3 separate regions of the Homo sapiens genome follow, and all the other regions are reported to be linked to region 1. The links are microRNA targets in miRTarBase. Many come from high-throughput screens and were not tested one by one. Region 1 holds a microRNA gene; each other region holds the end of a gene's coding sequence.

Evidence for each region. The annotated mature microRNA hsa-miR-433-5p reads UACGGUGAGCCUGUCAUUAUUC and lies in region 1 at 1,921-1,942, shown strand. An mRNA with a match to its seed (bases 2 to 7 or 8) in the 3' UTR can be bound and repressed. Matches are read on the target gene's strand: a 7mer-m8 pairs with bases 2 to 8, a 7mer-A1 pairs with bases 2 to 7 and ends in A, and an 8mer does both.
Region 2: miRTarBase lists TMPPE as a target of hsa-miR-433-5p. The part of its 3' UTR that is shown has no 7-base or 8-base seed match.
Region 3: miRTarBase lists GNL1 as a target of hsa-miR-433-5p. The part of its 3' UTR that is shown has no 7-base or 8-base seed match.

What each region holds. Positions count from the first base shown.
Region 1 is chr14:100,879,977-100,884,115 of GRCh38, forward strand. It overlaps MIR433 (microRNA 433), which reads left to right and starts at 1,910; the gene lies at 1,910-2,002. RTL1 (retrotransposon Gag like 1) reads right to left here. Exons shown (of 4, transcript NM_001134888.3): 4 at 1-4,139. The coding sequence ends at 736. MIR431 (microRNA 431) reads left to right here and starts at 1,031; the gene lies at 1,031-1,144. MIR127 (microRNA 127) reads left to right here and starts at 3,003; the gene lies at 3,003-3,099.
Region 2 is chr3:33,088,914-33,093,052 of GRCh38, reverse strand. TMPPE (transmembrane protein with metallophosphoesterase domain) reads left to right here. Exons shown (of 2, transcript NM_001039770.3): 2 at 1-2,631. The coding sequence ends at 219. The region is part of intron 1 of GLB1 (galactosidase beta 1); the gene reads left to right. Among named protein-coding and RNA genes, the nearest start is that of GLB1, 6.2 kb to the left of the region's middle.
Region 3 is chr6:30,542,634-30,546,772 of GRCh38, reverse strand. It overlaps GNL1 (G protein nucleolar 1 (putative)), which reads left to right. Exons shown (of 12, transcript NM_005275.5): 11 at 1-77; 12 at 460-4,139. The coding sequence ends at 701. Among named protein-coding and RNA genes, the nearest start is that of GNL1, 12 kb to the left of the region's middle.

The DNA of each region.
Region 1 (4,139 bases):
CGCCCCAAGGCATGCAGGGGCCCTCTTTGCTGTGCAAGTCTGGTAAGTGGCACTGGTACGTCCGGATGCCCCAAAGAGCGGCTTTGTCCAGGTAAGTCCAGAGCTCAGGGCAAGAGGAAGGCGGGGTCAAAAAAGCTGAAGCAGATGTGGTGGGGGTGGGGGTGGGTTTGCTTGCAGGGTGTGATGGGGGTGAGGGAGGCACCACATCATCAGATGTCGGGAGGTTGGGGGATGGGGGTTGGGGGGCGGGGGCGGGAGCTCAGGGGAGCAGGAGCACCGGCAGTGGAGGTAGAAGAAGTCAGTGGAGCACCCGAGGTCAGTGTCCCAGGGTGGCCATCACCAGGCCGGGTGGGGGGCCCCGTCACCTGCTTGCTTGGCTGCGCCTGCTGTGCCTGCTTCTTCATCTGGCCACGCGTCATGGGGTCACTTCCTGCTCACCACTGCTTTCTCCCTCATGGATGTCACTCCCGGGCATGGGCTTGGGACCTGGAGAACGGAGAACTCGTAGCCCAGGGCTGGCGCTGGGTCTCTGAGGACTGGGTAGTCCGTTAGCACAGGTGGCATTGCTGGTTGATGAGTTGAAGAAGTTGTTGCCCTTCACAAGTGGGTTCCTCTTGGGTCAGGAGTGGCAGGAAGGGAAGCGAAGCAGGCTGAGGCGCGGGGAGGCCAGGGGACGTCGGGAGGTGTTGGGGTGAGAAATAGAGGGGACTCTTTGCTGGAGACAGGGAGGCGTCTTCAGTCGAGGTTAGCATCTTCGTCCTCATCAGGCAGCTCTTCTAGCCTTGCCTGCTCCCTGGGCTGGCTCTCCCAGGCGGGGATGGGCAGGGCCCGCCTGTAGATCAGGGTCAGGAACTGGCTCAGGGCCCTGGCTGCCTGCTCCCGGCTGAGCAGGTGCAGCTGGCCATCTGCACTGTGGATGTGGAGCAGGCGGCTACCAAGGAATTCCAGGACCTGGGGATCCATCAGGTGGCGTGGGCGGGGTGGGTGGGTGGCTGCTGTGTGGCTGGGTGGGGCCTCCTGCACGTCGTTGTCCTGCTTGTCCTGCGAGGTGTCTTGCAGGCCGTCATGCAGGCCACACTGACGGTAACGTTGCAGGTCGTCTTGCAGGGCTTCTCGCAAGACGACATCCTCATCACCAACGACGTGCAGCTCCAGGTAGCGGTTCTGACGCAGGGCAGGGAGGTGGCCCTCCTGGGGGGTGACTCTGACACCGAAGAACTCACACAGCGTCAGCCAGAAGCCAGGGGTGAACTGCAGGCCTCGGTGGGCCTGGGAGTGCAGAGCATTTCGCTGCCAGCGGCCAGGGCCCAGGAACAGCTCAGCCAGCTCCTGGGCTGGGATGGTGTTTGCACCTACGAGAGCGGGCATCTGGGTGAGCAGCTGGGTGATGGCTGTCGTGATGCTGCTGCCTGCGATGAGGGACGAATCCAGGATGAGTCGTAGGGAGCGCTGGGGCTGGGGCCGAGCCACCCGCATGGCGGGTGCCGGCCGCAGCGAGAGGCATTGCCTCACGCGCAGTAGCACGAGGATGGCTGCCAGGGCTAGGGTGTTCTTCCAGTACAGGAGGCCTCGGAAGAAGTGCAGAATGACGGCCCTGATCTGGGCCATGCTGAAGTGGGCGAGGAAGCTGTTGAGGATCTGGTCGATGGGTATCATGGCCAGCAGCTCTTGCCGTAGGATCTGTTCATTGAGCTCATCCTGTTCTTCATTCTCTTCTTCCCCGGATTCCGTCGATGGATCCCTGGGGAATCCCCTTGAGGCCAGCAGCAGGGTTTGCCTGGCGGCAGTGTTCCTCTGGAAGGCTCTCCTCCACCGGAGGTTTCTCACAGGTGGCAGAGCTCGGCCGCCGTCTTGTTCTGGCAGCTCCATGACGTCAAAGTTGAAGTGGGAGAAGAAGAAGACCCAATGCCCGGGGAGAAGTACGGTGAGCCTGTCATTATTCAGAGAGGCTAGATCCTCTGTGTTGAGAAGGATCATGATGGGCTCCTCGGTGTTCTCCAGGTAGCGGCACCACACCATGAAGGCAGCCCGTATTGGAAGAATCTTCATCTCCGCTTGAGAGTACTCAACCTCGATAGGGGAGATGTTGCGGGAGTAGAAAGCGCAGCAGGCTCTCTTGCCGGTTTGGTCGTCGATTTGGATCAGGGAGGCGTGCAGGGCCGTGCCGGTGACGCCGGTTTCCAAGTAGAATGGGTTCTGGGGCTTGGGGTGGTGGAGGAGAGGCGCCTTGCGGAAAGCCCTCTTCAGGCACTCGAAGGCCTCTTGCTCCTCGACTCCCCAGTAGAACTGGTAGGAGCTCAGCAGCTGCCGCACCAGGGGCTCTGCGATGATGCTGAAGCGCTCCACGAAGTGGCGGTAGGGGAAGACGAATTCGATGAAGTTTCGCAGAGATAGCTTGGAGCCAGGGGTAGGGTACCCTGTTATGATGGTCATGACGTTCTTGTTCAGTTTCACCCCTTTGGGGGTGACGACGAAGCCCAGGAATTCCACGGTTTGGCGGTGGAACTGGCTCTTGTCCAGGGAGCAGTAGACGTTGTGATGGCGGAAGCGGACCAGGACTTGGCGGACGTGGTGGAGGTGCTCCTCCTGACTCATTGAGTAGATCAGGACTTCCTGGCCATAAGAAAGCACAAAGAACCCTAGCATGTCCTTTAGGATGAAGTGAATCACGTTCTGAGGTATGATAGGGTCTGGGGAGAGCGCAAACGGCTGGTAGCTCTTCATCTCTTCAAGCTCCAAACCAAACGCTGCTTTCCACACATCTTCGGTGCGGTGCCCGTTCACGCTTTCCTCCACAATGGTCCCACGCAGCTCCAGTTTTGTGAACCACTCGGCTCCGTGTAACTGGTCAAACAGTTCCGGAATCATCTGTATGTAGTCCTGTCTGTTGGTCAGCATGTCCTGCAGGTCCCAGTATTCCTCCTGTAGCCTGGCTCTTTCTTGCATCCTGGCACCCACAGGTTCCCAAGGCGCGGTGGAGGGACACTCGTAAAAGGTCTCGCTGTGATCACTGTCTCCAGCCTGCTGAAGCTCAGAGGGCTCTGATTCAGAAAGATCATCGGATCCGTCTGAGCTTGGCTGGTCGGAAGTCTCATCATCTGCTTCCTTCGGGTTAAACACGTCGGCCAGGTCTGAGTATGGGTGTGGCAGTCCGGGTAGCAGGCTCATGCCGTGCCTCTCTAGGGCAATGCATGGCGGGGGCGGGCGGAAGCAGTTCTTCAGGCAGTAGGGAGAGTGGAAGGTGCAGCGGCCTTTGATCCAGTCGACTTCGGGGGCGTGGACTCGGAGCCAGCGGATGCCTAGGACCACAGAGAAGTTCGGTGAAGGTACGATGTCAAATTCGATGGACTCCTGGTGGTTCTGGTGGATACACACCAGGGGCTCCGTGTAGAGCCAGACAGGCTCGTTGCCAATCAGCGAGCCGTCCACGGATTGGACCGGCTGTGGGTACGGCTTCTCGTAGAGCTCGACGTAGTGCTCTTGGGCGAACTTCTCATCCATGAAGTTGCCGTCAGCTCCCGAATCCACCAGGGCCTGGACCGCGACGCTGTGGTAGGGGTTCACTCTCACCATGAGCAGCAGGAAGAGGTGGGCGCGATTGATGTCCGGATGGACTTCGCTGGGCAACCAGCTGCTGACCATCCACCTCTCTGGAGCAGGTGAGTCGATCCAGGTCAGGTTCCGGGGGCGGGCCTCGGGGGGCAGCCTGAGCATAGCTCTTCTCTCTGCCAGCTTCTCTTCTATTTGCAGGATGAGCACAATCAGACTGTCTAGGGAATCCGGCTGAGGGACCCGGAATAGATAGTGCCTGATCTCCTCGTTGAGCCCCTGGCACAAGTGGGCCTGCAGGACTTCATCTGGCCAGCCCAAGATGGGTACCAGGCTCTGGAACTCATCGATGTACTCAGTGGCAGAGCGGCCGCCCTGCCTGATGGTGAACATGGCCTCTTCTGCCACACGCAGTGCCTGGCGGTACTCAAACACTTCGGACATGGCCTCCAGGAAGGCTGGGAAGTCTCCGATCAGGGGGCTGTTTTCCTGCAGTAGAGCTTTGGCCCATTCTAATGCCAAGCCGGACAGGTGATTGATGACATAGCCAACTCTCAGACGGTCGTTATAGAACATTCTTGGGTAGCTCT
Region 2 (4,139 bases), not on the chromosome of region 1:
CCAGATATTAACCTGATCCTTTCTGGGCACACACATGCTGGGCAGATCTTCCCCTTGAACGTAGCAGCCTATCTCCTGAATCCCTTCTTTGCTGGTCTCTACCAGGTGGCCCAGGCTACATTCGTGTATGTCAGCCCAGGCACAGCCTACTACGGGATACCCATGAGGCTGGGTAGCAGGGCCGAGATCACAGAGCTCATCCTGCAGCGGTCTCCCTGAACTGGCCCTGCCCTGTGCACCTCTGCCCTGCCCTTGTCCTCGACCCTCCATCCTGCTTCAGAGTGGTTTGCCTGCTTTTCCCCTCCAGCCTTGCCCACTCATCCTTGCCTACACACCCTTGGTCACAAGCCTGACTCAAACAGTGACTTATGGTGGGCCTGCCTGGCATGTTCAGGCTGGTTTAACTATTTCCTTGGCCAGTTGCTTTTTTTGATGCACTTGTGAGATCACTAAGGTCACATATATTAGCACTCCCCTCTATTTTCCAGATGATGTGGAATGGGGACCTTCTCCTGCAGAGCTCCCAGGGATGAACCTCCCCTCGGGGTTGCTAGAAAGGCATACCTCTAGAAGGTGGGGCGGGGAGGAGCAGGAGCATTTTTCTCCTGGTGTTTTAAAATTGTCTTTAGGACTTAAGTGGTTTCCAGAATCATTGATCCAGAGCCTTTCTGGGGAAGGGGTAGTGTTGCCAGGTAATTTGGGAGAACAGGCAAGATGGAAGGGCCCTCTGGCTGCTAGAGAAGAATATTTTCTTTTCCTCTGATTCTATCAGGATCACCTCTATTGAGGGCATCAGCAAAATCTACTGGAATGCAAAGCTCCTCCTGTTCCAGGCCTTGAGGGATGCTATTTAACTGTCTGTGCTCCTGGGCCTTTGGGGGCAAGGTCAGGGGAGAAGAACGGTGGGCGCCATGGTCGGTGATGGTGAGAACATGGCTGCTTAGGAATTCAGAGGGCTTTGCCTCCCTTGTCTCATTTTATACAACCCTTCGGGGAGCTCACTGGGGACAGGCTGCTTTTCCCTATTTGGAGATAAGGAAACCAAGGCAAAGAGAGATAGGGCACAGGCAGTATGACAAGATATGTAGGAGATTTGGGGCTAGAAACCAGGTCTTGTACCTCCCAGTAAAAGCGGTGCTTTTGCCCTTTTGCCAGAAGCAATAGATCCTTTGATCCTGAGATGGAGATAAGCACCCGTGTTAGAAAAGGCCTCACTGAGAAGACAGGGCTGGGCTGGTTTCCTGCTGGGTGATTTAGGCTTGTGATGGAAAGTCTTCCTCCAATGGGGAGTGAAGACACTCGCTCTGACTGGAGAGGCTAACCCTGCTGCTCACTCATAGGGCAGCGTTGGGTGGGTGACTTTCCCTCACTCAGCCTTGGTTTCCATCAACCCTAAAATGGGGATAATTATCGTATCTACCTCAAGATTGTTTTGTCAGGAGGGATCCATCAAGCCTTGTGCATGAGTTCCACATGGCACAGCGTGCACAGTAAACACTCAATGTTAATTTTTCAACGTTCCAGTGGAGCTTGCTAAGGAACTCTGTTGGGCACAGGTGCCCAGAGGATTCATGGAGCAGCCAGTCCTGGGGAATGTGAGTGGGTAGCGAGCTGCCTGCTGCTGGGGCAGGTGATGTGTCAAAGCAGCAACTGCTAGGGGTTTGCCTTCCTTCCCTCATGTGCATTCTGGCAGGCAAAGGGGGTTTCTTCCTTTCCTCCTTGTCCTCCTGGTGTATAGTGGGGTTCTGGGGGATCTGGAGACCACCCTTTTTGTTCCCAGGCAGCCACGGTATTGACAGTGGGCCATACCATGCAGTTTAAAATGTATCTTTGAGTTGAAATTTTGGTGGTTTCCTTATTCTTTTTTCTCTCTTCACTGTCCTTCCAAACTCACTTTTCTTGTGTCCCGACCGCATTTTGTGAATCATCCTTACTCCCTTTAAGTTCTCGCTTTGGATTTCACCAGGTGGGCTAGATGGTGCCATTTCACTTCCACTGTTTGATGCGGCTGGTAATGTTTGACTCACCTGTTACGTGTTATTTCACTGGTTTCTTGATTTTACATCTTTCTCATCAGTGACCTGGGCTTGATGAAATTAGCTTTCATTAAGTCCTATTTTTTTTTTAATTTTGCATCCTTACCTCTTTTCTTTCTCTTGAATGCCATCATTGTGTGGTCTTATGTACCCTTCATCCACTCTGAAGTCCTTGCTTGACTGATTGCTTTCTATTAGCAGAAAGAAAACAGGTCCATCCTATGTATCTGAGAAACAACATCAACACCCTCTCGTATGTGGTTTGTATTCCCTGACGCGGCGGACATTTTTGCAGCAGAAATTTCTCCATCACTGTCCAGATTCTGGCCCTGGTGGGCAGGTCTCCATGACACCTTTAGTCCCTTTGTTCAACATTCTTAAACCATGGACCTTTTTGTTTGTTTGTGGCCGGGGGAGGTGGTGAGAAACGTTACTTGAAGCTTGATCATTCTTTCAATTTCATTTGTTTCTTTATTTTTAATCTGTTAGATGCAAATTGAAATGCAATGCTTTTTGAAAATCAGCAATAGTGTCTGTAGTATATGATGCTGTCACAAAATCTCAATAAATTGATCCTGCTGCCATTCCTTCCAAATACCCATCCATGCTTTTCTTCCCCTCGTGTTTTGTTTGGTTTGTTTTAAACTTTTCGTACATGTACCTCTCTCCCAGCTTTAACAAGCATGACGAGACCACTCTGCCATCCTTTCTCAGCTACCCCTGCCCCACCTGTACTCTTTATTTTTTGGCTGGAGTATATTAAGGTAAATCATAGAAAACATAATGTTACCCCAAAATTACTTCAGTATGAATCCTTTTTCAAAAAGCATAGCTATAGTGTCATTATCATATCCAATGAAATTAACAGTGATTCTTGAATATCATCTAATAGCTAGTTAGGAGATTTGGGGCTAGTAGCCAGATTTTTGACCTCTTTAAAGAAGTGTTCTTTCCACTCTCTGAGTATTAAGTAGCTGTATCTGTCACAAATGAGTACAGAATTCAAATGCAGTTAACTGTGTGAAGAGTTAGTGTTTAGTTTTTCCTGATTATCTCAACTATATTTTTTATTGTGGCAAAAAAATTACTATCTTAACCATTTTTTTTGTTCTTTTTGTTGTTGTTGATCTTAACCATTTTTAAGTGAATAGTTCAACAGTGTTAGGTATATTCACATTGTTGTGAAATTGATCTAATTGATCTGTAGAACTTTTTCATCTTGCAAATCTATATACCCATTGAGCAACAAGGCTCCATTTCCCCCTTCCTCCAGCCCCTGGTGACCACAATTCTACTTTCTGTTTCTATGAATTTGACTGCTTTAGATACCTCGTATAAGTGAAATCATGCAGTTTTTGTCTTTTTGTGGCGGGCTTATTTCAGTTAGTATAATGACCTTAAGGTTGTGGCACGTGACTGGATTTCTGTCCTTTTTAAGGCTGGACTACAGTAATACTCTTGTATTTTCATGCCACATTTTGTTTATCCATGTTGAGCATGTTTTCATGGGCTTGTTGGCCACCTGTATACCTTCTTTGGAGAAATGTCTATTCAAGTCCTTTGCCTATCTTTAAATCAGGTTATTTAATTTATTGTTGTGGAGATGTAGGAGTTCTTTATATATTCTGGACATTAACCCCTTATCAGATACGTAATTTGCAGATATTTTCTTCAGTTCTGTACATTGCCTTTTCACTGATTGTGACCTTTGATGCACAGAGTTTTAAAGTTTAATGCAGGCCCATTTCTCTATTTTTGCTTTTATTTTGGCATCATATCCAAGAAATCATTGCCAAGTTCAATATCACGTAGCTTTTTTCCCCATGTTTTCTTCTAGGAGTGTTATAGTTTTGGGTCTTACGTTTAGGTCTTTAACCCATATTGAATTAATTTTTGTGTATGGTATAAGATAAGGGTCCAACTTCATTCTCTTGCCTGTGAATATCCAGTTTTCCCAGCACTGTTTTCTGAAGAAATTGTCCTTTTCTAACATCAAGAGATCTTGGCATCTTTGTTGAAAATCATTTGACCATATACACAAGAGTTTGTTTCTTGGTGTTCTATCCTCTCATTGCTCTATGTCTGTCTTTATGTCATTACCAT
Region 3 (4,139 bases), not on the chromosome of region 1:
CAACAGTCTCTTGCGGCTGGCAGTGGACGGCCGCCTCAGCCTGTGTTTTCATCCCCCAGGCTACAGTGAACAGAAAGGTCAGAGCCCAGATATTCTTCCCCAGCCCCCTGCTATAGCGTAGGTAAAAGGGTGTGGGCTTTGTGGCCAGAGAGAGGGTCAAACCTGGATTCTGTACCTGTTGGCTAGCTCTGTTACTTAACATCTGTGATATTTTCCTGATCTGCAAACTGAGGGTAATAATTGACCCTTAGCATAGTGATTGTAAAGATTGAAGTTGATGTGCACAAAGGTTCTGTTCAGCAATCTGCACATAGGAAGTTGAATGAATGGATGAATGAATGAATGCCAGCAGCTCTAAAGATTATTGTTATTCCTAGTCTTTGCCTCTTCCCCATCTTTCCTTGGCTTTAGTTCTTGCTCAAAACTCTCCTCCATTTTTTTCTTGTTTTGGTTCCCCAGGCACCTGGGAGTCCCATCCAGAGACCACGGAGCTGGTGGTTTTGCAGGGCAGGGTGGGGCCAGCAGGTGACGAGGAGGAGGAGGAAGAGGAAGAGCTGAGCAGCTCCTGTGAGGAGGAGGGAGAGGAGGACCGGGATGCGGATGAGGAGGGAGAAGGGGATGAGGAGACCCCAACCTCGGCTCCAGGGTCCAGCCTGGCTGGCCGAAACCCTTATGCCCTGCTGGGTGAGGATGAGTGCTGAGTTCCTCGCCCAGCGCCATCTTCCCTCCCAGTATCTTTGCTTTTGGACTGACCTGGGGGTATCTCCCCTCTGCCACCCCAATTGTGAATAAAGATTGTTTGCTTTGTAGCCCCTTCCCCAGATGAACTGAGGTGAGAGCGGCTGTTCCAGGCTAACAGCTGTGGGAGGCTTCTCTCCTCTTCTCCCTTCTTTTTTCATGCATTCTCTTTGCAAGGGAAAGTTCTCTTAGGAGTTTAGTAGGTTCTCAGTCTCTGAAACCTGCTTCCTCTACCCATTCTCCCACTCTGCACCTTAGGAATCCCGTTATCTACATGGGGAGGGGAGGTCTAAATCCAGCTCCCTTTTGGAGTTTGTGCCATTCTCCGATTTGAGCAGCAGCCCTGTGTGCCCCCTGCCGCCAGACCTGCTCATTCCAGGAGCTTCTGGGAGAAGGAACAGTAAGAGAGGAACTGTGTCCCAAGCTGATGTCTCTTAATGAGATTTTTACAGGAATTGTTCAAATTCAGCAAATATTTATTGAGGGTCTATTGTGTGTCTTGACCTGTGCTGAGCACCAAGCATATAAGGATGTACCACCAGAGCCTGACCTAAATTTGAAGCCTGGCCATGATCAAAACCCCACCTTCAGGCACCCAAGTTTTTGGATTAAGAAGGGTGAATGATGTTCTCCAAATCCTGGGGGCTCATGCAGTATAATTCTAGGACTTCATGTTGATACAAATTTTTAGTTAAGGCAAAACGCTTGTGAAAATGTTGATTAAATGTGTACGAGTAGTTTTAATTACTGGTGAACAACTAGCGTGCACATTTATGATTTGAGCAGAACAGCCCTTTAAGTACAGTGTTAAGTTTCATTGTTTAAAAGCTTGGCAGCTACGAGTATTTGAGGTACATAGGGGCGGGCACAGAACCAGCCTCCTGAATTCCATTTACTCTGGTTTGGGGGTGGAACAAAGATGATCCAGTGCAGGGTCTGAGCTAGAACCTAGCAGGTGGCCAGAACCATTTTAGGGTTTCACCTCAGCATTTCGGCAGAAATCAGCTCTCTCGTGAGTCAGGGCACCTTAGGCTTTGCTGTATATCCCTTTGTTAAGCCAGCAGCTAGACTCCTAGATTGAATTCTTTTAGAAATGGGAGAATGAGCTTTTTTATTGACTGCCAGTGTTGTCTGTATTGGATGATAGCAAAAAGTGTAGTTGGACAGGTTGCCCACTAGATGGAGTGAGAAGTACCAGACTCCTTTTTTCTCTAAAGCAGATCCTTTCAGGATCTGAGTCACTGGGCAGTTTCTCTAATGCGAGCAGACAGACCCTGTTAACCAAGGAGCAAAGGAAAGTATATTTAAAGAGGCTAAGGTGTTTGGCCACATATTGCTTTAGGTTCATCTCCATTGGTCTCAGTGTGGACATAACTCCTGGAATTCACTCCAGTGCAAAGTTTAAATAATACCAGCATGAGAATGTACTTGAAGGTTTCCCAAAATGTGCTAGACAAGAAAGAGAAAAGGTCCCAGCTGAGAGAAAAATCCACCTGTCTCCCATCTGGGGCTCTTTGGCCTCACTGATAGAAAAGGAAAAGGGGCCCAAGCTAAGCTTACTTTGAGGGTTCATGATGTTCAGAGATGCTCAGGGGACTTCTCCGCTGCAGGAGGTGGGGTGAGGACATTGGATTCATTTCCTCAAAATATGGAGAGAAAGGAGAAAAATCAGAATTCTATTTGTACCTCTGCTTCCTGTGCTGTTTATCTTTGCTTGTCTTTATCTTTTTCCACCTCAGGGGTTTCATCAGGGGTATTTGGGAGAGTCTAGGGGTGGGGATGAAGAATTGACTGGGAGCTGAGGAGGGGGGATTTTTATGCTGAAGACCTGGCAGGAGGCAACTCCTGACACCCCCACAGGGTTAGACTGTAAAACCTCTTCCATGACTTGCTGACTCTATAGGATAATAGCAACAGGAAAAGAACTGAGGGACGTGCAGATGAGGATGAATAGGGCCCCAACACCAGTGCCTGAGGCTGAGGTTAGAACTGACTACAAAGACACAGGAAACCAAGGGCCCAGTCTCCCCTCCACGCTGAAATACGCACCCTCTTGTCTGGGTCATGTCTACTATGTGAATACTTGACCATGGAGGTCTGGGGCTCTGGTGGCTTCCATAGCTGGCTAGTCTCTTGATGGAGAGAAATCAGGGCTTCTCTCATCCATGCTGGAATTTCATTTAGATGTCAACTTCCAAGTTTCCCTTTTTCCAGATGGGATTATAGTCCTGCTTCTGGAACAGGGTAGCTGTGTGTGGTCCAGGATAGTTCAATTATCTGGCCCTTTGTTCACTTCTTACAATCATTGATACAGTCAACAAAAATTGGTTAAAAACAATATATGCCAGACATATATCCCTGAGTTCTGGGACAATAACCAAAATTGAATAAGGCAATATCCTACTCTCAAGCAATAGAGGGTAGGAATAGAATAATAATAATATAATACAATAGCTCTATAGCAGTATGTAAACTATAAAAGCATTATTTTACGTGTTTCTATTGAACTGTCATAACTAAATAAGATGGTTAGTACTATAATTATCCCAAGGATTCATTCACTCATAGAACATTTGTTGAGCAATTACTACCTGCCAGTCACTTCCAAGTGGTAAGTGAGATAGAAATGGTTCTTTGTGGCGCTCACAATTTATTGGAGAATGGAAACACAATTACAAAAAAAAAGTGTGATAAGTTCTGGGAGAAGGGTGGTACAGGATCCTGTGGGGTAGTGGTGGCTCCATATAGGAGGGACATTGGGATACTGATCAGGAAGGAGTGGGGGACAGGGCTAGAAGCTGCATTAGTATAAAGTTATGTCAGACTGCCAAAACAAAACAAACACAAAAAATCAGTAGTCTGTGGTAAAGAATTGCTATAGGAACAGCCAGTAGGGGCAGTTAAGCTGGTCTTGGTGAATCAGGGGAAGCGTCCTAGAGGAACAGATGTCCATGCTGAGGCCAAATGCTGGACAGGAGTTAGCCAGACAGGGAAATTGCATTCTGGGCAGAGGAGACAGCAAAGGTCAAGAAACATGACAACTTTGGAAGACTGTAACTTGTTCAGAGGCAGAGGGTGCAAAGGAGAAATGAGGAAAGGTGAAGCTGGAGAGGTGGGCTTGGTCCAGCTCTTGCTGGGCCTTTTCAGCCGTGTTAAAGATTTAGACTGTATCCAGAGGGATGTTGAACTTTAAGCCTAAGACTGAAAAGGTGAGAATTGTGCCTTAGATCACTATGGTTGCAGTGTGGAGACTGGTTTGGAAAGGGGAGAAATCAGAGGCTTTTACAGCCATCCCAGGGAGAGAGAATGAACACCAGAATTAGGGTAATGGAAGATGGAAAGAAGAGAAATCGTTTTATGGGTTGCTCAGGAGATAGAATTGACATGTCTTGGGATTGTTT